Linked DNA regions of Homo sapiens. The protein of the gene in region 1 purifies or fractionates together with the protein of each later gene. This does not show direct contact. Each region holds a gene or a part of one and is shown in the gene's direction. Other genes may lie near its edges.

What was found.
Region 2: the proteins of DNASE1L1 (region 1) and YBX3 fractionate together in Homo sapiens (co-fractionation; one large-scale study listed by BioGRID). This does not show direct contact.
Region 3: the proteins of DNASE1L1 (region 1) and RGL3 purify together in Homo sapiens (affinity purification with mass spectrometry; one large-scale study listed by BioGRID and IntAct). This does not show direct contact.
Region 4: the proteins of DNASE1L1 (region 1) and ABHD12 purify together in Homo sapiens (affinity purification with mass spectrometry; one large-scale study listed by BioGRID and IntAct). This does not show direct contact.
Region 5: the proteins of DNASE1L1 (region 1) and ADGRF1 purify together in Homo sapiens (affinity purification with mass spectrometry; one large-scale study listed by BioGRID and IntAct). This does not show direct contact.
Region 6: the proteins of DNASE1L1 (region 1) and CD109 purify together in Homo sapiens (co-immunoprecipitation; 2 studies listed by BioGRID and IntAct, with this or other methods). This does not show direct contact.
Region 7: the proteins of DNASE1L1 (region 1) and CSPG4 purify together in Homo sapiens (affinity purification with mass spectrometry; one large-scale study listed by BioGRID and IntAct). This does not show direct contact.

Annotation. Positions count from the first base shown.
Region 1 is NC_000023.11:154,403,496-154,406,254, reverse strand, and holds part of DNASE1L1 (deoxyribonuclease-1-like 1 precursor), read left to right. Parts: intron 1-599; 5' UTR 600-686; coding exon 687-821; intron 822-1,171; coding exon 1,172-1,260; intron 1,261-1,340; coding exon 1,341-1,427; intron 1,428-2,632; coding exon 2,633-2,733; intron 2,734-2,759.
Region 2 is NC_000012.12:10,713,324-10,716,823, reverse strand, and holds part of YBX3 (Y-box-binding protein 3), read left to right. Parts: intron 1-1,040; coding exon 1,041-1,130; intron 1,131-3,490; coding exon 3,491-3,500. UniProt on the Homo sapiens protein: Binds to the GM-CSF promoter. Seems to act as a repressor. Also binds to full-length mRNA and to short RNA sequences containing the consensus site 5'-UCCAUCA-3'. May have a role in translation repression.
Region 3 is NC_000019.10:11,395,315-11,398,814, reverse strand, and holds part of RGL3 (ral guanine nucleotide dissociation stimulator-like 3), read left to right. Parts: intron 1-1,217; coding exon 1,218-1,370; intron 1,371-1,456; coding exon 1,457-1,571; intron 1,572-3,500.
Region 4 is NC_000020.11:25,321,336-25,324,835, reverse strand, and holds part of ABHD12 (lysophosphatidylserine lipase ABHD12), read left to right. Parts: intron 1-1,405; coding exon 1,406-1,511; intron 1,512-3,500.
Region 5 is NC_000006.12:47,004,333-47,007,832, reverse strand, and holds part of ADGRF1 (adhesion G-protein coupled receptor F1 isoform 1 precursor), read left to right. Parts: intron 1-538; coding exon 539-580; intron 581-1,956; coding exon 1,957-2,016; intron 2,017-3,500. UniProt on the Homo sapiens protein: Adhesion G-protein coupled receptor (aGPCR) for N-docosahexaenoylethanolamine (synaptamide), an omega-3 fatty acid lipid highly enriched in the brain.
Region 6 is NC_000006.12:73,765,703-73,769,202, forward strand, and holds part of CD109 (CD109 antigen isoform 1 preproprotein), read left to right. Parts: intron 1-227; coding exon 228-452; intron 453-1,056; coding exon 1,057-1,158; intron 1,159-1,245; coding exon 1,246-1,308; intron 1,309-2,352; coding exon 2,353-2,529; intron 2,530-3,500. UniProt on the Homo sapiens protein: Modulates negatively TGFB1 signaling in keratinocytes.
Region 7 is NC_000015.10:75,688,849-75,692,348, reverse strand, and holds part of CSPG4 (chondroitin sulfate proteoglycan 4 precursor), read left to right. Parts: intron 1-1,536; coding exon 1,537-3,500. UniProt on the Homo sapiens protein: Proteoglycan playing a role in cell proliferation and migration which stimulates endothelial cells motility during microvascular morphogenesis. May also inhibit neurite outgrowth and growth cone collapse during axon regeneration.

The DNA of each region.
Region 1 (2,759 bases):
CTCACGCCTGTAATCCCAGCATTTTGGGAGGCCGAGGCGGGCAGATCACGAGGTCAGGAGATCAAGACCATTCTGGCTAACATGGTGAAACCCCATCTCTACTAAAAATACAAAAAATTAGCCGGGCGTGTGGCAGGCACCTGTAGTCCCAGCTACTCGGGAGGCTGAGGCAGGAGAATGGCGTGAACCCAGGAGGCGGAGCTTGCAGTGAGCCGCGTTTGCGCCACTGCACTCCAGCCTGGGCGACAGAGTGAGACTCCGTCTCAAAAAAAAAAAAAAAATTCTGACATATGCTCCAACATGAATGACCCTTGAGGACATTTTGCTCAGTGAAATGAGCCAGTCACAAAAAGACAAATACTGTAGGATTTCACTTTTTTTTGAGACGGAGTCTTATTGTCGCCCAGGCTGGAGTGCAGTGGTGCGATCTTGGCTTGATCTTCACAGAGCAAGACTCTGTCTCAAAAACAATTTTTTTTTTTGGAGACAGAGTCTCACTCTGTCACCCAGGCTGGAGTGCAGTGGTATGATCTCGGGAGGTCACTGGGAGGCTGGTGCTGGGCAGCAGCTAGTGCCACTTTCTCTGTTCCATATTTCAGCGCTTCCAGAGCCAGAACTGAGCCCAGTGAGAGCGCACCCTGGGGCAGCCTGGATTCCTGGGGTGTCCCCGGCAGCCACACACAGCCATGCACTACCCAACTGCACTCCTCTTCCTCATCCTGGCCAATGGGGCCCAGGCCTTTCGCATCTGCGCCTTCAATGCCCAGCGGCTGACACTGGCCAAGGTGGCCAGGGAGCAGGTGATGGACACCTTAGTTCGGGTAAGTTCATCACTTCAGGGAAGCCGTGCCCCTAACCACCATGAGCCAAAGCCCCCATCCCTGCCTGACCAGGGGTATGTTCTAGAGAAGAGGGGAGAAGAAGAGGTGTGGCACGGAGATGCAGCGCAGGCGCTTGCCTGCTGCTGGCCTCAGTCTCCTCCTCTGTGAAACAGGTGACATGTGGGTGGGATGAGTCTTTTCCTGGGGCATTTCCAGTCCCACTGCTTTCTGTGGGCTGCAGTCAGTGAGCCTTAACACTCTGGGCCACAACAGTGCCAGTCCCCTGGGCCCACTGCCTCCTCTCAGGGCAGTTGGCACTGAGTCAGGCTGGCCTTCCTGATGTCCCACAGATACTGGCTCGCTGTGACATCATGGTGCTGCAGGAGGTGGTGGACTCTTCCGGCAGCGCCATCCCGCTCCTGCTTCGAGAACTCAATCGGTGAGGAAGATTCTGTGGGTCTAATCAGGGGCACACCCAGAGGCTTGAGGCCCTGACCCCGCCTCCCCTTTTCTTGGCAGATTTGATGGCTCTGGGCCCTACAGCACCCTGAGCAGCCCCCAGCTGGGGCGCAGCACCTACATGGAGACGTATGTGTACTTCTATCGGTGAGCACGGAGCTGGCAGCGCAGCAGGGTGGGGGGCGGTCCTTGGCCCTAATGTGAGGTAGGCTCATTAGTCCCCGGGGCCACAGGCCCCCCATCCTGGGACAGCCTCACCTGCTTTGCATGCTTTCTCTTCTCAACACCTTTTATTCTGGGCTCTTCCCATCCTCGACCCCCGCCAGAGTGTCCATAGAGCAGGAGGCCTTCCTTCTATAAGCACAAATGTGGGGTCCCTCCTCCTCTCTCCTGTGGGAGCTGCTGGGGCTCAGGGTGTGGCTGGCCCCCTCTATGAAAGTGGCCAGCAAGGGCTGCAGCTCCTGGGAAGAGGCTCCGTGGGGACCACTTATGGGCCTTGGGTAGACCCGATCTTCTAAGTCCCTGGGAGGACAGGCTGGCAGGGAGCCCTTTGGAGTCAGGATCCAGAGGGCAAGGGAGGCTGCAGGGAAGGAGAACTGATTCTCTATATAAATAAAATGATATGACATCTGGTATGCGCTCCAAAATTACTGGGTAGGCAGGGTACAGTGGCTCATGCCTGTAATCCCAACGCTTTGGGAGGCTGAAGCAGCAGGATCACTTGAACCCAAGAGTTCAAGGCTGCAGTGAGCTATGATTGTGCCAGTGCACTGCAGCCTGAGCAACAGAGTGAGACCATGTCTCAAAAAAAAAAAAAAAAAAAAAAAGAATGACATCAAAGTGTCCAAATGTCAAAATGTACTATACCCAGTCCGTGGAATATTATTCAGCCAGAAAGAGGAATGAAGCACAGACGTGCCACAGCATATGGACGAACGCAGAAAACATTGATGAGCTGATTTCATTCATATGAAATATCCAGAATAGGCAAATGTACAAGATAGAGAACAGATTAATGGTTGCAGGGGCTGGGGGGAGGGGAGAATGGAGAGTAACTGGTAATGGATGTTATGTTTTTATTAGGAGTAATGGATACCAATGTTTTAAAATTGATTGTAGAAATAGTTGCACAGCCTTATGAATGTACAAAAGAACCGTGTTGTATACTTGAAGCAGGTGAATTTTATGGCATATGAATTATGCCTGATTTTTGAAAGTTCTAGAGACAGGTTGGGAGGGCTGTGCCCACATTGCCGCTGTTAGTGGAGGGCCCCTCCCTGAGCGCCGTTTGGCACTTGCAAGCCAAAATCAAAGACGTGGGGCCACTGCTGCCCATCCCTTTGTCCTCCCAGGTCACACAAAACACAGGTCCTGAGTTCCTACGTGTACAACGATGAGGATGACGTCTTTGCCCGGGAGCCATTTGTGGCCCAGTTCTCTTTGCCCAGCAATGGTAGGAAGGGAAGGGTGGGCTTGGTA
Region 2 (3,500 bases), on another chromosome or scaffold:
GTTTTTGGAATGGCTGAATGTTCATGCTGCGTGCCTGTCCTGAACTGCCTTTTTTCCTCTATGGGTGAGGTCTCTGCTCTGTTGGCTCACTATTTCTTTTCCCTCCTACTCAGAGTTAGGGGACGGGCTGGATTACACATGCTTAATCGCTTTATAAAATAAGGTTGACCTAGTTCCATAGAAACGCAAGCCCCTTTAACTGTTTAGAGATACCAGCCAAAGAAATGGAAATGCATGGCAGGAATTATTTTCTGCCTTCATTGATGGAACAAGAGAGAGCAGCACCTATTCATAAGCAGATATTTAGGTGTAGATGTTTAATGAAGAATAGCATCTTCACTAACCTTTTAATGTATTATCAGGGAATGTAGGATTTGTTGACATGAATTGTGTGATGGGAGAAAAGTTGAATAAATATCATATAGGTAGAGTACAGGGATATGAATTCCCCCTCCTCCACTTCCCCCATCATCCCTGGGGCTGTTACGGTTGTGACTTCAGATAAATCACTTTAACTGTTAGCCTCGTGTTAACTCATCTGCAAAATGGGAGGAGAGGGGGGAGGCCAGATTATTACTAATACGTTCTGATTCTTGAGATAATTTTGTTTACTCGTCAGAAATATTTATCCCCTTGGCATTTTAATTTGTTTTTCTTTATCACTGCCTCCTTTCCTCCTCCGGAGATTCAGAGAATCTCTGAAGCTTAATGGTTTGAGGTAATTAATACATCTGATATGATCAGGTGATCAGCCTGTAACAGTAGTGTGTAGTCACTGCACACACTGCAGTTATAGAAAAAACATGTTCTGTTTAATCCACCTGTCAAGATGAATAGCACAAATCAAGGAAGTAATGTGGAATATAGTTTTATAGTGCTTTCTTGTTGTTGTGTTGGAGATCCAACTTAGTGGGAGAATGGTGGAAAAATAAGAATCGGTCAACAGTTTCTTCAAGTTCACTCTGGTGTACTTGAAAGCAGTGAAATCTGTGGCCAATATTGAAATATACATCGAATAAAATTTTCTGTTCTCTTTCCAGACTGCCATCAAGAAGAATAACCCACGGAAATATCTGCGCAGTGTAGGAGATGGAGAAACTGTAGAGTTTGATGTGGTTGAAGGAGAGAAGGTGAGAGGAAATTGTGGTTGGGTATCAAAGTGCTGGCACATAGTACTGTTGCACAATAAATTATCTATCAGCCCCTTATGAATTGACATGACTTTGGAATTTTTGTACAATAGCAGGAAGTGACTTTTAAACAGAATTTTTTTTTTTTTTAAGATGGGGTCTCCCTCTTGCCCAGGCTGGAGTGCAGTGGCGCGATCTTGGTTCACTGCAACTTCCACCATCCAGGTTCAAGTGATTCCTCTGCCTCAGTCTCCCTAATAGCTGGGATTACAGGCATCCACCACCACGCCCGGCTAATTTTTGTATTTTTAGTAGAGACGGGGTTTCACCATGTTGGCCAGGCTGGTCTTGAAACTCCTGACCTTAGGTGATCCACCTGTGTCAGCCTCCCAAAGTACTGGGATTACAGGTGTGAGCCACCACACCCAGCTAGCAGAAATATTTTTGACATTGTCATTATAAACATTCTGCAATAAAGATACTTTAATTTCTTATTTAATAAATGATCAACTCTGATTATGGAAAGAAAAGCTGATTTCTCAATTTAAAAATAATTTATATTTTTATACCAAAGGTATGTATTTCGAAATGCAGATTAAAATTTAACTATCTTATGTATTAACAATATATTAAAAGTGCTTTGCAGCTGGGCGTGGTGGCCCACACCTGTAATCCCAGTACTTTGGGAGGCTGAGGCAGGCGGATCTCCTGAGGTCAGGAGTTCAAGACCAGCCTGGCCAACATGGTGAAACCCGTCTCTACTAAAATTACAAAAATATCTGAGTGTGGTCGCACTCCTGTAATTCCGGCTACTCAGGAGGCTGAGGCAGGAGAATCGTTTGAACCTGGGAGGTGGAGTTTGCAGTGAACTGAGACATTGCACTCCAGCCTGGGGGACAGAGCAAGATTCCGTTTTTTAAAAAAAAAAAAAGAAAAGAAAAACTGCTTTGGGGCAAAAGATTTCTTTTATCAAAGTAAAGTTTTCAGGCTGACTTGTAAGCACTTCTACCTACAAATAATACATGGTAAAGAATATTTTAATCCCAATAAAAGGAGATCGAAATTGAATATTAATCATTTTGTTTTCTGTTTGGCTTGGATTTTGGGAAGCTGAAGGTACCCTGATAGACCCTAAGATAGCTTCGTCCGGGTGAACTGAATCCAAGAAGTTAAGGGATTTTCCTGAAGACTAGCTACAGAAGTTTTTAATACTGTTATATATTTAATTCCGTGTCTGTAATGCCCTTTATGCTTTGTGTTTAGTCTGTTATAGATACTAGTAAAACAATATTGAGTAAGATTAAAAACACGCTAAAACTACATATAGCACAACTGCCATGGCAGCTAATCATGGCAGCTGAATTATAAATTAACTGGATGAGAGGTTAACTCCCTGTATGTGCTCCTCCCATATACACATATACCATTCCATAGGTCATGTTCCTAATGGCTCTCAAACCATTGTGTTTTAAAAGAAAAACAATTTATTTCATTGGATGCAGAAATTTAAGTGATTATCTTTACCGGTGTGATCCCCAGGGTATCTTGTAAGTCTTTTAGATTTTCAAATCACTCACCAGCACCTGCCACTCTGTGAGGATCTCTGATATCCCATCCAATTTTTAAAAAATTGTTTTGGGTTGATTTTTCTTCTGTATGTTTTCAGAACTCAGGGTTTTACAAAGTGATGTAGGGTGTGAAATACACTCTCTGAAATCTTCTTGGTCTACATTTTTTTAACATTTTTGAAACATTTTCCATTTGTCCATATGAGAATAAGAATTCTAAATCTGTTTCAAGGATAATAGGAAAGGCTAAAGAAGGACTACATGTGTGGAGAATATTATTCATCAAAGACCCTTTCTTCTTGTTGCTGCCAAAATAGGAGAAGTTTCACTCAGTACCTTTGTGCTGGACAGAGAATCATATGAGCCCATGAATAGGGATTGTCCTCTTGGTACCTCCTAGACTAACATAGGTTTCAACACATTCTAGGAAAATAACAGTATCTCAAGTCTTTCCCATTGAGGAATATTCTTCCTGGTCTAGCATTGCTTCTACTTTGACAGTTGTATATTTGCTAATTTATGTTCTTTAAAGAGGTTACACATTGCTTTTGCGATTGACATTACTAGACAAGAAAGCAAAACTCAGGTTGTATGAGCAAACAAGCCATATATGTTTAAATCAGGATGTGAAGTACCTTGCTCACTTTGTTTAAAACCTAGATCTGTTTTTAAAATCACAGTGGGAATTCTTAGTATGTTCTGCCAGTCTTATACTCTAGCAGTCCAAGGCTGTTTTTTGAGTTAGTGTATATTCTTTTTAATTTTGAGGCCATCTTTTTATTTTCTTCTCAGGGTGCAGAAG
Region 3 (3,500 bases), on another chromosome or scaffold:
CCTGTAGTCCCAGCTACTTGGGAGGCTGAGGCAGGAGAATCACTTGAACCCAGGAGACGGAGGTTGCAGTGAGCTGAGATGGTGCCACTGCACTCCATCCAGCCTGGTGACAGAGCGAGGCTCCCTCTAAAAGAAAAACAAAAAAAGAAAAGGAAATGAAGGAAATGAAGGCTGGGCATGGTAGCTCATGCCTGTAATCCCAGCACTTTGGGAGGCCGAGGCCAGTGGATCACTTGAGGCCAGGAATTTGAGACCAGCCTAGCCAACATGGTGAAACCCCGTCTCTACTAAAAATAAAAACATTAGCTGGGCATAGTGGCACAGGCCTGTAATCCCAGCTACTTGGGAGGGTGAGGCATGAGAATTGCTTGAACCTGGGAGGCAGAGGTTGCAGTGAGCTGAGATGGCACCACTGCATTCCAGCCTGGGTGACAGAGCAAGACTCTGTCTCAAAAAAAAAAGAAAAGAAAAAGAAAAGAATCTGTGTACCAGAAGAGGAAATGTGGGCCTGAGTATTCATGAGATCATGTGTGGGGTTGTTCATTGGCATGGGCTGTGGGTGTATAACCGCTGTCAGCATATGTATGTACACAGGATTTCTTGTGTATGAGCATGGGTTGTGTGTATATGGACACTGTTCATGTCTGTTTCTATAACAGGTAACCAAAGTCTGTATATGGTAGGGTGGTGTATATGCAGGCTTGTGAATGTACTCCAGTTGCATGTCCCAGGCTCTGCATGTGTAGGGGGTAGTAGTATGTTTTCTTGAGATTTTATTTTATTTTATTATTTATTTATTTATTTTTGAGATGGAGTCTTGCTCTGTCACGCAGGCTGGAGTGCAGTAGCGTGATCTTGGCTCACTGCAACCTCTGCCTCTCAAGTTCAAGTGATTCTCCTGCCTCGGCCTCCCAAGTAGCTGGGATTACAGGCATGCGCCACCAGGCCCTGCTAATTTTTGTATTTTTAGTAGAGACGGAGTTTCACCACGTTGGCCAGGCTGGTCTTGAACTCCCGACCTCAAGTGATCCGCCCACCTCGGCCTCCCAAAATGCTGAGATTACAGGCATGAGCCACTGCGCCCAGCCAATGTTTTCTTGAGATTTTAAATGTGGGGCTATTGAATGCACCAGTGGTGGCTGGGGTGTTCGTGCTTTTCTAGCCCTCAGCATCTGCAGATGGGCCAAGCTGTAGCCTCCACCCCTTACTGCCTGCAGCTGCCCCTGAGCCTGGACCTGCCCAGCCCCCGGCCCTTCGCTTTGCCTCTGGGCAGCCCTCGAATCCCCCTCCCGGCGCAGCAGAGCTCGGAGGCCCGTGTCATCCGCGTCAGCATCGACAATGACCACGGGAACCTGTATCGAAGCATCTTGGTGAGGGGCTGGGCTGGGGGTCTGCTGGAGGCTGCCCTGCCCTTGGGGCCGGGGCCCTCACCTCACCTCCCGCCCCTCTCTTCCAGCTGACCAGTCAGGACAAAGCCCCCAGCGTGGTCCGGCGAGCCTTGCAGAAGCACAATGTGCCCCAGCCCTGGGCCTGTGACTATCAGCTCTTTCAAGTCCTTCCTGGGGACCGGGGTGAGCAGGGATGGGTTGGAGCTCAGGATAGGGGGCAGCGGGGAGGCGAGCAGACTGACCACGCCCAAGGATGGAGCCCAAGGTTACCCGGGTTCACAGGGCTGTGAGGTGCTTCAGGCAGAGAGTAGGGGTAAGATAATCAGTGGAGGTAAGAGGACATAAAATACCTGTAACCCAACGATGTAGGGTCATGAGATTGTCTTGGCTCAGTGTGAGAGAGAGGTACCAAAGGTCATCTTCCTAAAATTTAAAAGACAATAAGATTGTCCAGGGTCCGGCCAGGCGCAGTGGCTCATGTCTGTAATCCCAGCACTTTGGGAGGTCAAGCTGGGCGGATCACTTGAGGTCAGGAGTTTGAGACCAGGCTGACCAACGTGGTGAAACCCCGTCTCTACGAAACATACAAAAATTAGTCGGGTGTGGTGGCACACTCCTGTAGTCCCAGCTACTCAGGAGGCTGAGGCAGGAGAATAATTGCTTGAATCTGGGAGGCGGAGGTTGCAGTGAGCCGAGATCATACCACTGCACTTCAGCCTGGGCAGCAGAGCGAGACTCTGTTTAAAAAAAAAAAAAAAAAAAAAGACTGTCCACGGACAAGTGACAGAAGGGAGTGTTTCTGACCTTCAATTTGTAGGATGGGCTGGGCATGGTGGCTCACAACTGTAATCCCAGCACTTTGGGAGGTCAAGGTGGGTGGATTGTCTGAGCTCAGGAGTTTGAGACCAGCCTGGGCAACATGAGGAGACCCCATCTATACAAAAAATAGAGAAATTGGCTGGGTGCGGTGGCTCAACGCCTGTAATCCCGGCACTTTGGGAGGCCAAAGCGGGTGGATCACTTGAGGTCAGGAGTTCGAGACCAGCCTGGCCAACATGGTGAAGCCCCGTCTCTACTAAAAATACAAAAAAATTAGCTGGGCATGGTGGCACATGCCTGTAGTCTCAGCTACTCGGGAGGCTGAGGCAGAAGAATCGCTTGAACCCAGGAGGCGGAGGTTGCAGTGAGCCGAGATCGCACCACTGCACTCCAGCCTGGCGACTGAGCAAGACTCTGTCTCAAAAAAAAAAAAAAAAAAAAAAAAAAAATATATATATATATATATATATAGAGAGAGAGAGAGAGAGAGAGAGAGAGAGAGAGAGATTAGCTGAGCATGGTGGCATGTGCCTGTATTCCCAACTCCAACTACTGGGGAGGCTGAGGTGGGAGGATCACTTGAGCCTAGGAGGTGGAGGCTGCAGCGAGCTGAGATCACGCCACTGCACTCCAGCCTGGGTGACAGAGCAAGACCCTGTCTCAATTAAAAAAAAAAAAGGGGGCCGGGCATGGTGGCTCACGCCTGTAATCCCAGCACTTTGGGAGGCCGAGGCGGGTGGATCACGAAGTCAAGAGATCGAGACCATCCTGGCCAACATGGTGAAGCCTCGTCTCTACTAAAAATACAAAAAATTAGCCAGGCATGGTGGCAGGCGCCTATAGTCCCAGCTACTCAGGAGGCTGAGGCAGAAGAATCACTTGAACCCAGGAGGTGAAGGTTGCAGTGAGCCAAGATTGCGCCACTGCACTCCAGCCTGGCGACAGAGTGAGACTCCGTCTCAAAAAAAAAGAAAAAATAGATTGTCTAGGGTCGAGTGAGAGAAGGGAGTGTAGAAGTTTGTCTGATCTTAAGTTTGTAGCATCATGAGATTGTTCAGGCTCAACCTGATGGGATGGGAGACTAAAGGGCATCTGGGCTTAGATTTGTGAGAACTAAGTTTGTTCACCACTGGGACCCTGAAGTTATCTGAACTTGGGACGGGAGAGAGGCAAATGGATAGCCGCGGAAGCATGAGATTGTCCTGTCTGACAGGGAGAAGCAAGGGATTGAGCGTATTCACGCTGAAGTACATGGCATGAGGTTGGCTGGATATTAGGAAAGGATGCTTGTGG
Region 4 (3,500 bases), on another chromosome or scaffold:
TTGAAGATGTATCTGCTTCCTGGGAAAGAGATGGAGTAAGAAGGTGGGGTATGAACAGCAGCCCTGGTGGTAGGAACTGTCTCCCCACATGGTCTGGGACAGACGCTCAGGGAGTTTCTGGGAAGGAGTGTGTATGTCCCCATGTCCTCGTGAGTCCAGCCTGGTGACATTTGAGGAAGTGAGGCTAGATGTGCAATGTGCCACATGGACATGGGAGTCACGCAACCCCTGTCTTCACCAGAGACAGCTGTCAGCAGCAGAGCTTCCCCGGGGGCAGGACCCACCAGAGGGAAGCCAGGCCCACACTGCTCTCTGTCATTGCCTCTTTTGGGAGTTGCCATTTTATAAAGCAGGCAAATCCCACCTCAGGGTTCATGCGTTTATTTTAAATTTTTTGTTTTTCAGTTAAACTTATTTTAAAGTTGTGTTCACCAAAAGCAGTAAGACTACAATGGTATATAAGGAAAAAATTGCCCCCATTCTCCCCACACACACACTTTGAAGCTGTGTGAGCAGCCTGGCTTCTGTCTTTCTGTATATCCTCCCAGCCACATGTGGAGGTCGTGTTTCATTTGCATGTTTTTACAATAACAAAGTGGGGCTACCGCACCCGCACCCACAGTCACCTTGCTCCTCTCATCTGCCCGCAGGTCCTGGAGGTTCCTCCAGGTCTAAGGGCCCCATGGTCTTCCACAGTGTGAGGTGCTGGTTAATTCACTCGCTGTCCTGCTGGCAGATGACCTGGTAGATGCAGGACTTCTGCTGGGCCATTGCACTGACTTCATTCTGCTCTGCATGGGTCCTATGGATTCATCCCCCTCGCTGCCCCACACCTCACCTTCTGCTGTCTTTTCTGTGTTAGGCAGCAGTCCTGGAAACTTTGGAATCCCCTTTACCTTGTTTGCCACCCAACGTTCCGTTGGTCATCAGGTCCTGCAGCGCCATCCCCTTTCCTGCTGTCCTTCCCACTCCACCAGGCACCTGAGTTATTCGCAGGCTCAGCCTCCCCAGCCTCCCTCCTGGCTGGCCCATCCTTCAGACCTGTTGGGGATCTTTCCTTCCCTCATTTGCATCTTCTCACACCTAGAATGACCTTAGACCTTAGCGTTCCAGTCTCTACACAGACCTTGCCCTCACTGCAGTCTCTGTCCCTGCCCATGCTGGCTGGCCTCAGCCCATACCCTGCCTGAGGCTGGGCCTGCAGGTCTGGCACCATTGTAAGATTGCACAGGAAAAGGACTTGGTGCTTTCTGAGAGCTTCTGCAGTGTGTGCATGTGGGTGTGCATGTGTGTGTGTGCACGTGTGGATGCATATCTGTGCACGTGTGTGAGTATGCATGTTTGTGTGTACATGTGTGTATTCATCCACCAGTAATCCTAATTTCCATCTCTTTATTTCCTACAGTAAGAGTTCCCTATTTCATTGATTTGAAAAAACCACAGGATCAAGGTTTGAATCACACGTGTAACTACTACCTGCAGCCAGAGGAAGACGTGACCATTGGAGTCTGGTGAGTGCCAGTGAGCTCTGCAGCCCCTCCAGCAGCAGGAAAGGACCCTACATGACTGAGCTGGTGCTGTCTTTGACATTGGCCTCTGAAATGTTGTTCATTTTTATCTTCACCTCTTCCTTTCCTAAAGGAAAGATCTCAGTACATTTGATCCATCCTAATGTTGAGGGATTCAATGGCTTTAAACTCTATTCCCAGCCTTTCAAAACAGCAAAGGCTTTGTGAACAGATTATTATTTTTAGAGAGACTTGTTTCTAGGAAAAACGAAAAGCAAACAAAGAAGCTAGAAACAGGATATAAGTGGCCGGCACAGTGGCTCACACCTGTAATCCCAGCACTTTGGGAGGCTGAGGCAAGTGGATCACTTGAGTCCAGGAGTTTGAGACCAGCCTTGGCGACAAGGTGAAACCCCATCTCTACTAAAAATACAAAAATTAGCCAGGCATGGTGGTGCACACCTGTAATCCCAGCTACTTGGGAGGCTGAGGCAGGAGGATCACTTGACTCCAGGAGGCAGAAGTTGCAGTGAGCTGAGTTCACGCCACTGCACTCCAGCCTGGATGACAGAGCAAGACTCTGTGTCCAAAAAAAAGAGAATATAAGGGAAGAATCACAAACACTGGTTTGAATATATCTTCCATCCAGGCGCGGTGGCTCACGCCTGTAATCCCAGCACTTTGGGAGGCCGAGACGGGTGGATCACTTGAGATCAGGAGTTCGAGACCACCCTAAACAACATGGTGAAACCCCGTCTCTACTGAAAAAAAAATACAAAAATTAGCTGGGCATGGTGGCACGCGCCTGTAGTCCCAGCTACCCGGGAGTTTGAGGCAAGAGAATTGCTTGAACGCAGGAGGCAGAGGCTGCAGTGAGCTGAGATTATGCCACTGCACTCCAGCCTGGGCAACAGAGCGAGACTCTTGTCTCAAAAAAAAAAAAAAATATATATATATATATATATCTTTTCCAAGAGGTGAACATCTAGATACTGAAAACAGCTTGATTTCTTTTCACATATAGCTTCGCACCAGCTGATGATGATGGTGTTGGCTGTCTTCTGAGTATTTACTTTTTTAAGCCATAAGTTTACACTGGACATAAGCCTTGTGACTTCTCTGTGTCTCCTTGGAATACATTTTAATGTTTTCTTCTGTACACAAGTGGTGCTTCTGAACAGCTGAATTAAAATTGACCAACCTCACTGTAGCATTTCCGTTTTTCTCTGAGAAGTGAGCCTGAATCACAGCCCTTTTATCTAGCTGAATTTATTTTTCAGTAGCCATAACGTCGCTTTCCACTGTCTCAGAAAACCACTGTGTATGTGAGAAGCTTCTAAATGAAATGCTGTGAGTAGCTTCCCAGTGTGGATGAGAGAACATTCAGACATTTCTAACAGTGGTCCTTGGTAAAGAACATAAAACAAGAAGGGAGATTTTTGTTCTTAGTAGTTGGTGCTGGGATTAAAGTCTTTTGTCACTTCCTGATTTGATTTAATCTAGCATTTACTGACCAATGTGTGACTGTGGGACTCCTCAGGTTTCTGTCTGAAGCATGACTTGTTTTGCACAGAGCTGCTGAGTGGGACTTGGTCAGCCCTCTTCTTGGTTAACATGAGTCTGTCCTATTGCAGGAGGGTGTTTATGGTGGTGAGACTTAGGCTGGAAGTACTAACAACTCCTGCATACATTATCAGCTACCAGAAAAGGTTTTGTTTAGTGATGTCAGTGGCAAGTGTCAAGGCAGTGACAGCCACGCTGTGTGTTGCTGTGTGTTGGTGGGTGCGTGTTGGTGAGTGCGGCTGCTGCCCACTCTCATGCCCTAGGCAGTCACAATGACATTGGGCCCTCAGGCAGCAGCAGGCCCAGCTCACCAACTGCCCCCACCATCGCTTCATCAGACCCTCCCACCAGCTTCCTGAAAGGAGGGCCTCAAGGCCTAGAGTGGAGCCTGGGGGCCATTCCTGGCCATGCCTGGCCATCGCCTGTCTG
Region 5 (3,500 bases), on another chromosome or scaffold:
GATACACTGTCTGAACAAGCACCAACTGAAGGAGCTATGCCTGAGAGAAGGAATTCAAGATCCACCAAAACATTTACCAAGGGTTCCCCAAGACCTGCACTGGAAGGAAAGGGTGCTGATATAGGTCAAATCCCTCCACTTGGCCATAGGATTGGATCTCTGTGCCTGCTGCCGTCATAGATGCTTAGACATCAAATGCCTGGTCTAAAGAAAGACTAAGATACAGACAAAAAAGGATGCTATTTGTTTGGGTTGGGATGGTACGATGGGGAGAATGAAGCTCCACATGCAAAACTTCATTCGCTTGGTCATTTGCTTATTTAGACATCAACAAAACATTTTTTTGAGTGCTTTGCATAGTGCCATGCACTTGTGGAGGCCACATGGTGTTCTTGCTTTCAAGGAGACTACAGTCTCTTAAGGAGACAGACAAGAAAACAGTTTCAATGTGGGGTGATTGAATAGTGTTACATATAAATGCTTTCTTTTTTGGAAAAGAAAAATACAATACATGTGATTTATTCCTTTCTTTTTAAAGGGATTTTTTATCTTATGCTTTGGAATACTCTTGGACAGTAAGGTATGTGTATTTATTTCTCTCATTAACCCCTAGCCTAGACATCTTAGGCCCCCTCCCCTTTGTTCTGAGGCCTTTATTCATATAATAAGAGGTGGGACTATTGGTACTTTTGTAATAAAATTCTGTGCTTTTAGAGAAGTCAGGCTCAGTCAGAAAACAAAGGAACTAAACAGTCACTGCTGATAAAGCTTGCAGAACTAATCAAACATGTAATGTAAACGTTGTCGGAAAAAAGGGGAATTCTTTTTACCTTTAACTTTTCTAATTTAAATTATGGTATGGCAGTAATTCCATAGCAAAATTGCTTTGCTAACAGGTGAATTCTCTTTTGTTCTTTCAATTATTCTACCCATTTATTTAGAATATGCTGAAATATATATCTACTTCTATACTTGTAGAGTTTTAAACAGTAAGTGTTAATAGCCTCTCACAGACTATTATTCTAAGTGAAGTAATTCAGGAATGGAAAACCAAGCATTGTATATTTTCACTCATAAGTGGGTGATAAGCTTTGAGGATGCAAAGACATAAAAATGACACAATGGACTTTGGGGACTCAGGGGAAAAGGGTGGGAAGGGGGTGAGGGATAAAAGACTACAAATTGGGTGCAGTATATACTGCTCAGGTGATGGGTGCATCAGAATCTCACAAATCACCACTAAAGAACTTACTCATGTAACCAAACACCACTTGTTCCCCAATAACCTATGGAAATAAAAATATTTTAAAAAGTAAAGTATACTGTTGAAGAAAAATAAATAAATAAATAGCCTCTCACATTAAATAAAATTCCCAGTGAAGAACAGTAAGTTTAAATGAAAGATAATAGAAAAAAATTTTTAAATATACTTGTTTCATAAACCCAAGCATTAAACAATTCTGTTGGGAGAGGTGAAGGCCATAAGCTAATAGATGTATAGTCTTTGTTTTAATAAGAAAATAAAAAATTTTTATAATTAGCAAAATTGTTGCTAATTATAGGAACAATTTTGCACATGAACAAACTGCTATCTACAAAGAAGCAATTTGCTGTTCTTAATTGTACTAAAAGTAATTGCCTTGTCTTACCATTCATGTGGTTAGGAAACTCTTCACTTCAAAGATACACTTCAGTTTAGCAATTATTGCCAACTACTAATGTCTAAAATTGGAATGAGTATGGCATTTGGTACTGTTGTTCTTTGTTGAACTCTAGTTTTGTTTATAGGTAAAGAGATGAAGAAAATAATCTTTCTACCAGATATCCATTCATGGTCTACTAACTGCTTCTAGGAAATAATACTATTAAATAACCATTTCAACCTGCAGTTGTTCTTGATTTGTCTGTGTATGATTGTATGTGTATCTCCTCAATATTTCTTTGTTGCCCTTATAGCTGCGACAACTTCTGTTCAACAAGTTGTCTGCCTTAAGTTCTTGGAAGCAAACAGAAAAGGTAATTATCTCCTACTGCCATGAATCCAATACATGAAGTTCCAGTTTTGCATTCTTCTCTTTATACAGTCTTGCTGCAAGCCAACTTCTGTGTAAACCCCTTGAATTTCTTTCACCATTATATTCCTGGTATCTGACATGGAGCCTGGCACATGAGTGGTAGTAAAGAGTTGTTGAGTGAATGAGTGATTAAATGAGTGACTGTGAAGTCATGGAAACTTACAAGGATGCTCAAGTATGGAAGTCTGTGGGTGCTTGTGAGTGAATACTTTTGAACAATGGCATTTACTTTAGTCTGACTAGCTTATCAATATTTAGAACTAGCAAGGCCCTTTTCTTCATCTGACTTTCTGAACCTTCTGTAAACCATTTTTCCTTCTCTAGACAGATAAAATGAGAGATCTTGGTTAAATTCTTGTCTTTAAATTTGGTTAACTTCTAATACATAAAAGTATTATGTATTAATAATTTTCTTTTTTTAGGCTGCTATCACTGATTCTGTTACTTGCAATCTTAGCTCTTAAGTCTACAAACCCACAAGTTTTTAAGGAAATGGAGGATTTCTGTATCATTCTTTGCCATAAAAGTATAATCCATATGGGGATAGTATATTTAGAAACAAAAGTGCTTGAACACATATTTTGTGTTTTCAATATTATTTAGACTTTTGTTTTTCAGCGAGGCACTGAGGGCCTTTCAGAAGGAGTTCTAAAGCAGAGAATTTCTTTATTTTATAAAAGTCAACTGACTTAACTGCATCCAAACCTATATGGGTATTGAGAGATTTTTACAAGTGACAATATAACTTTTTGAAATAAAAATCAATAAGGAAATTTTCCTCTGGCATTAAAAAGTCTTCCTTGGTCTGCATTTTTCAGTAGACAGCACTGCTGTGAATTACGGAGCACTGGCCCATGAGCAGGTGGACCAGTCCTGCCCTTGTATTTCTGACTCCGTAACCAATTGACTGTGTGATCTTAGGAAAGTCACTTCGTCTCTAAGTTTTAATTTTCTCAACTGTAGAAAATAAATGTTGGACTAGTTATTCAAAGCAGAAGTTCTCACATTCTGGGATTTAGATTTTATGTCTGGAAGAACTAAAAATCACTCGAACCAGAAGTTGTGAAACTAATGAGTCATTACCTACACTTAAGAAAAGGAGAAAATTACAGCACATGTGACTACATAAAAGATAAAACCTTTAGTGAATATAATGAGACGGGACACTCCCCACCCTGCAAAGCAGAAAGTCAAAATTTTTCTCCTTTGAAAACCAAAGAAGGAAAAATACTCCCAAGTAAAATAAAACAAAAGCAAAAGCAAGAATGCCTAACAGTTTCTCTCTGTTTCTAACATCAAGCACTGACACTTCTGAGAAGGCAGTGTCTGTATTTGTACCTTCTCCCCAATTTCATTTCCAAATTAGGTGACAAAAATGAGATTTTGTTGCTGGTTAGGTGGCTCATTTGTTTTAAAATAAATATA
Region 6 (3,500 bases), on another chromosome or scaffold:
TGAAGGGGGTTATTTTGGAGCCGCGGAAGTTAAGGGAATCCATAATATTAACAAGGGAGTAATCAGTGATGTTGGATGCCTCCTAGAGAGAGGCCACTGAATCTGGATATTATAGTGCTACCAATAATTTTTGAGAGTTCAATTTCATGAGAATACTACAGACGGAAACTGTATTTAATCGTACTTAAATCCTTTGTGTTTTTAAGATGTTTTGTTTTGACCATTAGGTGAAGGTAACTCGTGCTGATGGCAACCAACTGACTCTTGAAGAAAGAAGAAATAATGTAGTCATAACAGTGACACAGAGAAACTATACTGAGTACTGGAGCGGATCTAACAGTGGAAATCAGAAAATGGAAGCTGTTCAGAAAATAAATTATACTGTCCCCCAAAGTGGAACTTTTAAGATTGAATTCCCAATCCTGGAGGATTCCAGTGAGCTACAGTTGAAGGTGCCGTCTGTTTCCCATCATTGTGTCACTGCAACAACACCATTACAGTTGTAATCTTGTGGTAGGCACTCAACCTGTCAGAACTGAAAGTACATAGGAAGTGGACACATGTTTCTGTTTCACAAAATGGAGGAGAGTGGTAAAAGTAATTTAATGACAGTGGCTGAAGGTTAGACTAAATTTTTCCTTGTAAGTTCATTTTGAAGAGCACAGTAAAATATAGCAATGTGAAGATATGATGGAGAATTTCCTCAAATCCCCAGTCTAGTGTTTGAGGTCAGTCATTTGAAATTTTATTTTGGCAGGAATTGAAATGAAAGATAAATATATATACATATATATATATACACACATATATATGTATATGTATATGTGTGTGTGTATATATATATATATATATTCCTTTCCTGTGTTTTAAAGCTATCAGTTTCTTTACAGTATAAGCTATAAAATGATGAAAATCCAATGTCTGGTGAATGTATTTTTCTTGCATTAAAAAAAAGTGAAGATGAATTTGGTCTTTAATAATTGTTCAGCAGGTAACATCTTTTCTCAAGGTGTTACTAAAGATGAACATTTACAGCTCCTTTTTCTTTTATTATAGGCCTATTTCCTTGGTAGTAAAAGTAGCATGGCAGTTCATAGTCTGTTTAAGTCTCCTAGTAAGACATACATCCAACTAAAAACAAGAGATGAAAATATAAAGGTAATGCTTACAATTCACTTGAGAATTACAATATAATTGGACTATCTTGCTTTTGATATGTACATATTAATTAAGGTTTTTTTCTAGGTGGGATCGCCTTTTGAGTTGGTGGTTAGTGGCAACAAACGATTGAAGGAGTTAAGCTATATGGTAATCTCTTATAGAATCTAAATTTATGATCTATTATAGAATCATCTTTTTATTCACTTTTAAGTTCTGGGGTACATGTGCAGGTTTGTTATATAGCTAAACTCATGTCATGGGGGTTTGTTGTACAGATTATTTCATCACCCAGGTATTAATCCTAGTACCCATTAGTTATTTTTCCTGATCCTCTCCCTCCTCCTACCCTCCACCCTCCCATAGGACCCAGTGTCGGTTGTTCCCCTCTATGTGTCCATGTGTTCTCATCATTTAGTGTGCACTTATAAGTGAGAATATGTGGTATTTGGTTTTCTGTTCCTGCATTAGTTTGCTAAGGATAGTGGCCTCCAGCTCCATCCATCTTCCTGCAAAGGACATGATTTTATTCTTTTTTATAGCTGCATAGTATTCCGTAGTATATGTGCACCACGTTTTCTTTATCCAGTCCACCTTTGATGGGCATTTAGGTTGAGAATCATCTTAAATGGTGTCTACCTTATATCTACACTAAACTTATTAATTTTTATAACTCAGCCTCATACCTTTTTAGCCTGTCGTTTTAACATTGCAATCAAATAAAAAACCTTTTTTATTTCTTCACCTATGTTTGCATTTCCAATTTAAAATAGATAACTAAACCTTGTTTTATGTTTAAAATTTAAATTTCTATTTGATAAGCAATATATATTCATTATAGAAAATTATACAATGTAAGAAAAATGAAAAAGAAAATAAAAAGTGCTATCCATGACCATGTAATTTTGCTAATTCAGCTTTCCCAATGGTGCCCTGTATTCCTTGCAATCAAAAATAGATTCTTGACTATGAAGCTACTGTTGCTCCAATCAGTATTACTTTAATCTTACCATTTTCTTTTTCTCAGTGTATGCTCTCTGTGTTTGTCAGAGAGGTTTTCCTGCATTCCAAAAGACTTTGAAGCTGGTTTAATTCAAGAATTTGTGTGTATGCATACAATTATGATTAATGTAGCTTCAGATGAGATCCTACTAGGTTTGGCAATAAATTAAACCCATCTACTGTTCTTTTCAGGTAGTATCCAGGGGACAGTTGGTGGCTGTAGGAAAACAAAATTCAACAATGTTCTCTTTAACACCAGAAAATTCTTGGACTCCAAAAGCCTGTGTAATTGTGTATTATATTGAAGATGATGGGGAAATTATAAGTGATGTTCTAAAAATTCCTGTTCAGCTTGTTTTTAAAAATAAGGTAAGATTTAAGGTAATGATGTTTAAAAGAAAACTTTATATTAGTGAAGTCTGAGAAATGTAATATTTCTTTAGAAAAGTATCATTAAGCCAAACTGGTTAGAAATTTATATTATTCTATTTCTAGAACTATGGTTAAACTTTTCAATATTTAGCATTACATATATATTTTCACTTGTGGAGTTATTGGGGATTGATAGTCTATTTGTAAACTATGGTTCTGGTCTTTAAGACTTTAACTCAGATCATGAAGCTGTTTCAGAATTTTTCAAATGGTTGAATTAATATTGCTCAGGAGTGAAATTCCAGTGGTAACATAGAATTCGTGTGGTGTTGATATTGCAGTGATATAAAGGGTGTGGGAAGGAGTGAGGCCATCTAGGATAATACGTAGAAGCAGAGCTGGGCTTTCATTAATCTATTTAATTAGCTGGAAACTAGCCCAGGGCAACTTTTCAATGAGCTTGATTACCCTGCATGTGAGGATCTGTGTGGAGTCTGGTCTCCAAGTGCACCAGTGCCTTTTATAGCCTAATGTGACCAGCTTGAGTAGGAAATCCCTTTGGACCCCAGCTCTGAAAAGAAACCTGATTGCATCATCTCATGTATATAAGAATGAGCCATTGCTGTCACTAACAACTGCTGCCCTCTCCATCCTCTTATGTAAAAAATTATTCCTTTAAATAGTGATTTGCAGAGTATGGTTCTTCTATTTCTTTTTCCTTTATTTGTTAAAATATTTGAGAAGTAACAGTAGTGATCTGTACTTTCTTTTTTAAAATTTGTATTTATTTATTTTTTGAGACTAGGTTATAAGACTGGCTAATTTTTGTATTTTCGGTAGAGAGAGGGTTTTGCCATGTTGCTCAGGTTGGTCTCTAACTCCTGGGCTCAGGAGATCCACCTGCCTCAGCCTCTCAAGGTGCCGGGATTACAGACATGAGCCACTGCGCCAGGCCTGTACTTTAGTTT
Region 7 (3,500 bases), on another chromosome or scaffold:
TAGGAGTTCAAGTCTGGCCTAAGCCACACAATGAGTCCCCATCTCTATTTTTAAAAGAAAAAAATAACCGGACGCGGTGGCTCATGCCTGTAATCCCAGCACTTTGGGAGGCTGAGGCGGGTGGATCACCTGAGGTCAGGAGTTCGAGACCAGCCTGGCCAACATGGTGAAACCGTGTCTCTAATAAAAATACAAAAAAATTAGCCGGGCATGGTGACACATGCCTGTAATCCCAGCTACTCAGGAGGCTGAGGCAAGAGAATCACTTGAACCCAGGAGAAGGAGGTTGCAGTGAGCCGAGACCGCACCATTGCACTTCAGCCTGGGCAACAAGAACCAAACTCCGTCTCAAAAAAAAACAAATTTGGGGCAGCCATCTCCTTCCACACCCCATGGGGAGAGGACTAGGGCTTGGTCAGTCTGCTGCTTTCACTGTTAAACACCAGCGTGGTGCAGGCTGGTGCTGATGGCTGTCCAGTTCTGTAGGTACAATGATGCCACACCCCTACAGAGATGCTCCATACCAGGACTCCAAAATTATAGTTCTTAGTGCCCTGGTTCTGCAGTTACCATACTCTGCCACCTCCCATTCTACCATCTGGGAGCACCGTACCAGAGCCATTTCTGCTGTCAATGTCATGGAGACAGAACTATGTCCTTCATCTCTCCCCAAGATCTCCTTCCACCCCAGGTCAGGGAGCTTTTTTTCAGAACACAGAGTATTTAAATTTTAATTTAAAAATTAGCCTATTCCTGAACAGTGAGCCTGGCTGCCTTCAATGACCCCAAGAAACTTTGCTCTGTTGAAGGGGACTGATCAAGGGATTCCCAGTTACCCATTATTCCAAAGTTGAAATCCAGATTCCAAGACAATATTTCTGGCACCTCTCACTCAAGGAAAGAGGGGAAGAATTTAAAAACACAGGTTGGATTTCTAGGAGAGCATCTTGCTGTATGTCAGTTCCTTGTGGGCGAGGACCACATCTGATTCATATCAGGGTCCCCAGAGCCCATCCAGCCCTGGCCCAGAGTTTCCTTTGGTGAGTGTTTGGAGGATGAATAAAGAGATGGCAGGACGGCAAGAGGAGTGGCACCAGAGGCTCTTGTCCTAGGTTTTCCACTCTGGGGCCCCAAGTGTGGGGAACTCACTATGCTTTTTTTTTGTTTGTTTTTTGAGACAGAGTTTCGCTCTTGCTGCCCAGGCTGGAGTGCAATGGCATGATCTCAGCTCACTGCAACCTCCACCTCCCGAGTTCAAGCAATTCTCCTGCCACAGCCTCCAAAGTAGCTGGGATTACAGGCATGCGCCACCATGCCCAGCTAATTTTGTGTTTTTAGTAGAGACAGGGTTTCTCCATGTTGGCCAGGCTGGTCTCAAACTCCTAACCTCAGGTGATCCGCCTGCCTTGGCCTCCCAAAGTGCTAGGATTACAGGCATGAGCCACCACTGCAATCACGCCCGGCTCTATGCTTTTATAAGGGAAATGATGGATCCAAAGTGCTGTCCACTATCTCCCACTCCCCATCTCTCTTCAGGTCAGACTTGTTCTGGGCCAGGAGGAGCTGAGGCTGCAGACTCCAGCAGAGACGCTGCTGAGTGACTCCATCCCCCACACTGTGGTGCTGACTGTCGTAGAGGGCTGGGCCACGTTGTCAGTCGATGGGTTTCTGAACGCCTCCTCAGCAGTCCCAGGAGCCCCCCTAGAGGTCCCCTATGGGCTCTTTGTTGGGGGCACTGGGACCCTTGGCCTGCCCTACCTGAGGGGAACCAGCCGACCCCTGAGGGGTTGCCTCCATGCAGCCACCCTCAATGGCCGCAGCCTCCTCCGGCCTCTGACCCCCGATGTGCATGAGGGCTGTGCTGAAGAGTTTTCTGCCAGTGATGATGTGGCCCTGGGCTTCTCTGGGCCCCACTCTCTGGCTGCCTTCCCTGCCTGGGGCACTCAGGACGAAGGAACCCTAGAGTTTACACTCACCACACAGAGCCGGCAGGCACCCTTGGCCTTCCAGGCAGGGGGCCGGCGTGGGGACTTCATCTATGTGGACATATTTGAGGGCCACCTGCGGGCCGTGGTGGAGAAGGGCCAGGGTACCGTATTGCTCCACAACAGTGTGCCTGTGGCCGATGGGCAGCCCCATGAGGTCAGTGTCCACATCAATGCTCACCGGCTGGAAATCTCCGTGGACCAGTACCCTACGCATACTTCGAACCGAGGAGTCCTCAGCTACCTGGAGCCACGGGGCAGTCTCCTTCTCGGGGGGCTGGATGCAGAGGCCTCTCGTCACCTCCAGGAACACCGCCTGGGCCTGACACCAGAGGCCACCAATGCCTCCCTGCTGGGCTGCATGGAAGACCTCAGTGTCAATGGCCAGAGGCGGGGGCTGCGGGAAGCTTTGCTGACGCGCAACATGGCAGCCGGCTGCAGGCTGGAGGAGGAGGAGTATGAGGACGATGCCTATGGACATTATGAAGCTTTCTCCACCCTGGCCCCTGAGGCTTGGCCAGCCATGGAGCTGCCTGAGCCATGCGTGCCTGAGCCAGGGCTGCCTCCTGTCTTTGCCAATTTCACCCAGCTGCTGACTATCAGCCCACTGGTGGTGGCCGAGGGGGGCACAGCCTGGCTTGAGTGGAGGCATGTGCAGCCCACGCTGGACCTGATGGAGGCTGAGCTGCGCAAATCCCAGGTGCTGTTCAGCGTGACCCGAGGGGCACGCCATGGCGAGCTCGAGCTGGACATCCCGGGAGCCCAGGCACGAAAAATGTTCACCCTCCTGGACGTGGTGAACCGCAAGGCCCGCTTCATCCACGATGGCTCTGAGGACACCTCCGACCAGCTGGTGCTGGAGGTGTCGGTGACGGCTCGGGTGCCCATGCCCTCATGCCTTCGGAGGGGCCAAACATACCTCCTGCCCATCCAGGTCAACCCTGTCAATGACCCACCCCACATCATCTTCCCACATGGCAGCCTCATGGTGATCCTGGAACACACGCAGAAGCCGCTGGGGCCTGAGGTTTTCCAGGCCTATGACCCGGACTCTGCCTGTGAGGGCCTCACCTTCCAGGTCCTTGGCACCTCCTCTGGCCTCCCCGTGGAGCGCCGAGACCAGCCTGGGGAGCCGGCGACCGAGTTCTCCTGCCGGGAGTTGGAGGCCGGCAGCCTAGTCTATGTCCACCGCGGTGGTCCTGCACAGGACTTGACGTTCCGGGTCAGCGATGGACTGCAGGCCAGCCCCCCGGCCACGCTGAAGGTGGTGGCCATCCGGCCGGCCATACAGATCCACCGCAGCACAGGGTTGCGACTGGCCCAAGGCTCTGCCATGCCCATCTTGCCCGCCAACCTGTCGGTGGAGACCAATGCCGTGGGGCAGGATGTGAGCGTGCTGTTCCGCGTCACTGGGGCCCTGCAGTTTGGGGAGCTGCAGAAGCAGGGGGCAGGTGGGGTGGAGGGTGCTGAGTGGTGGGCCACACAGGCGTTCCACCAGCGGGATGTGGAGCAGGG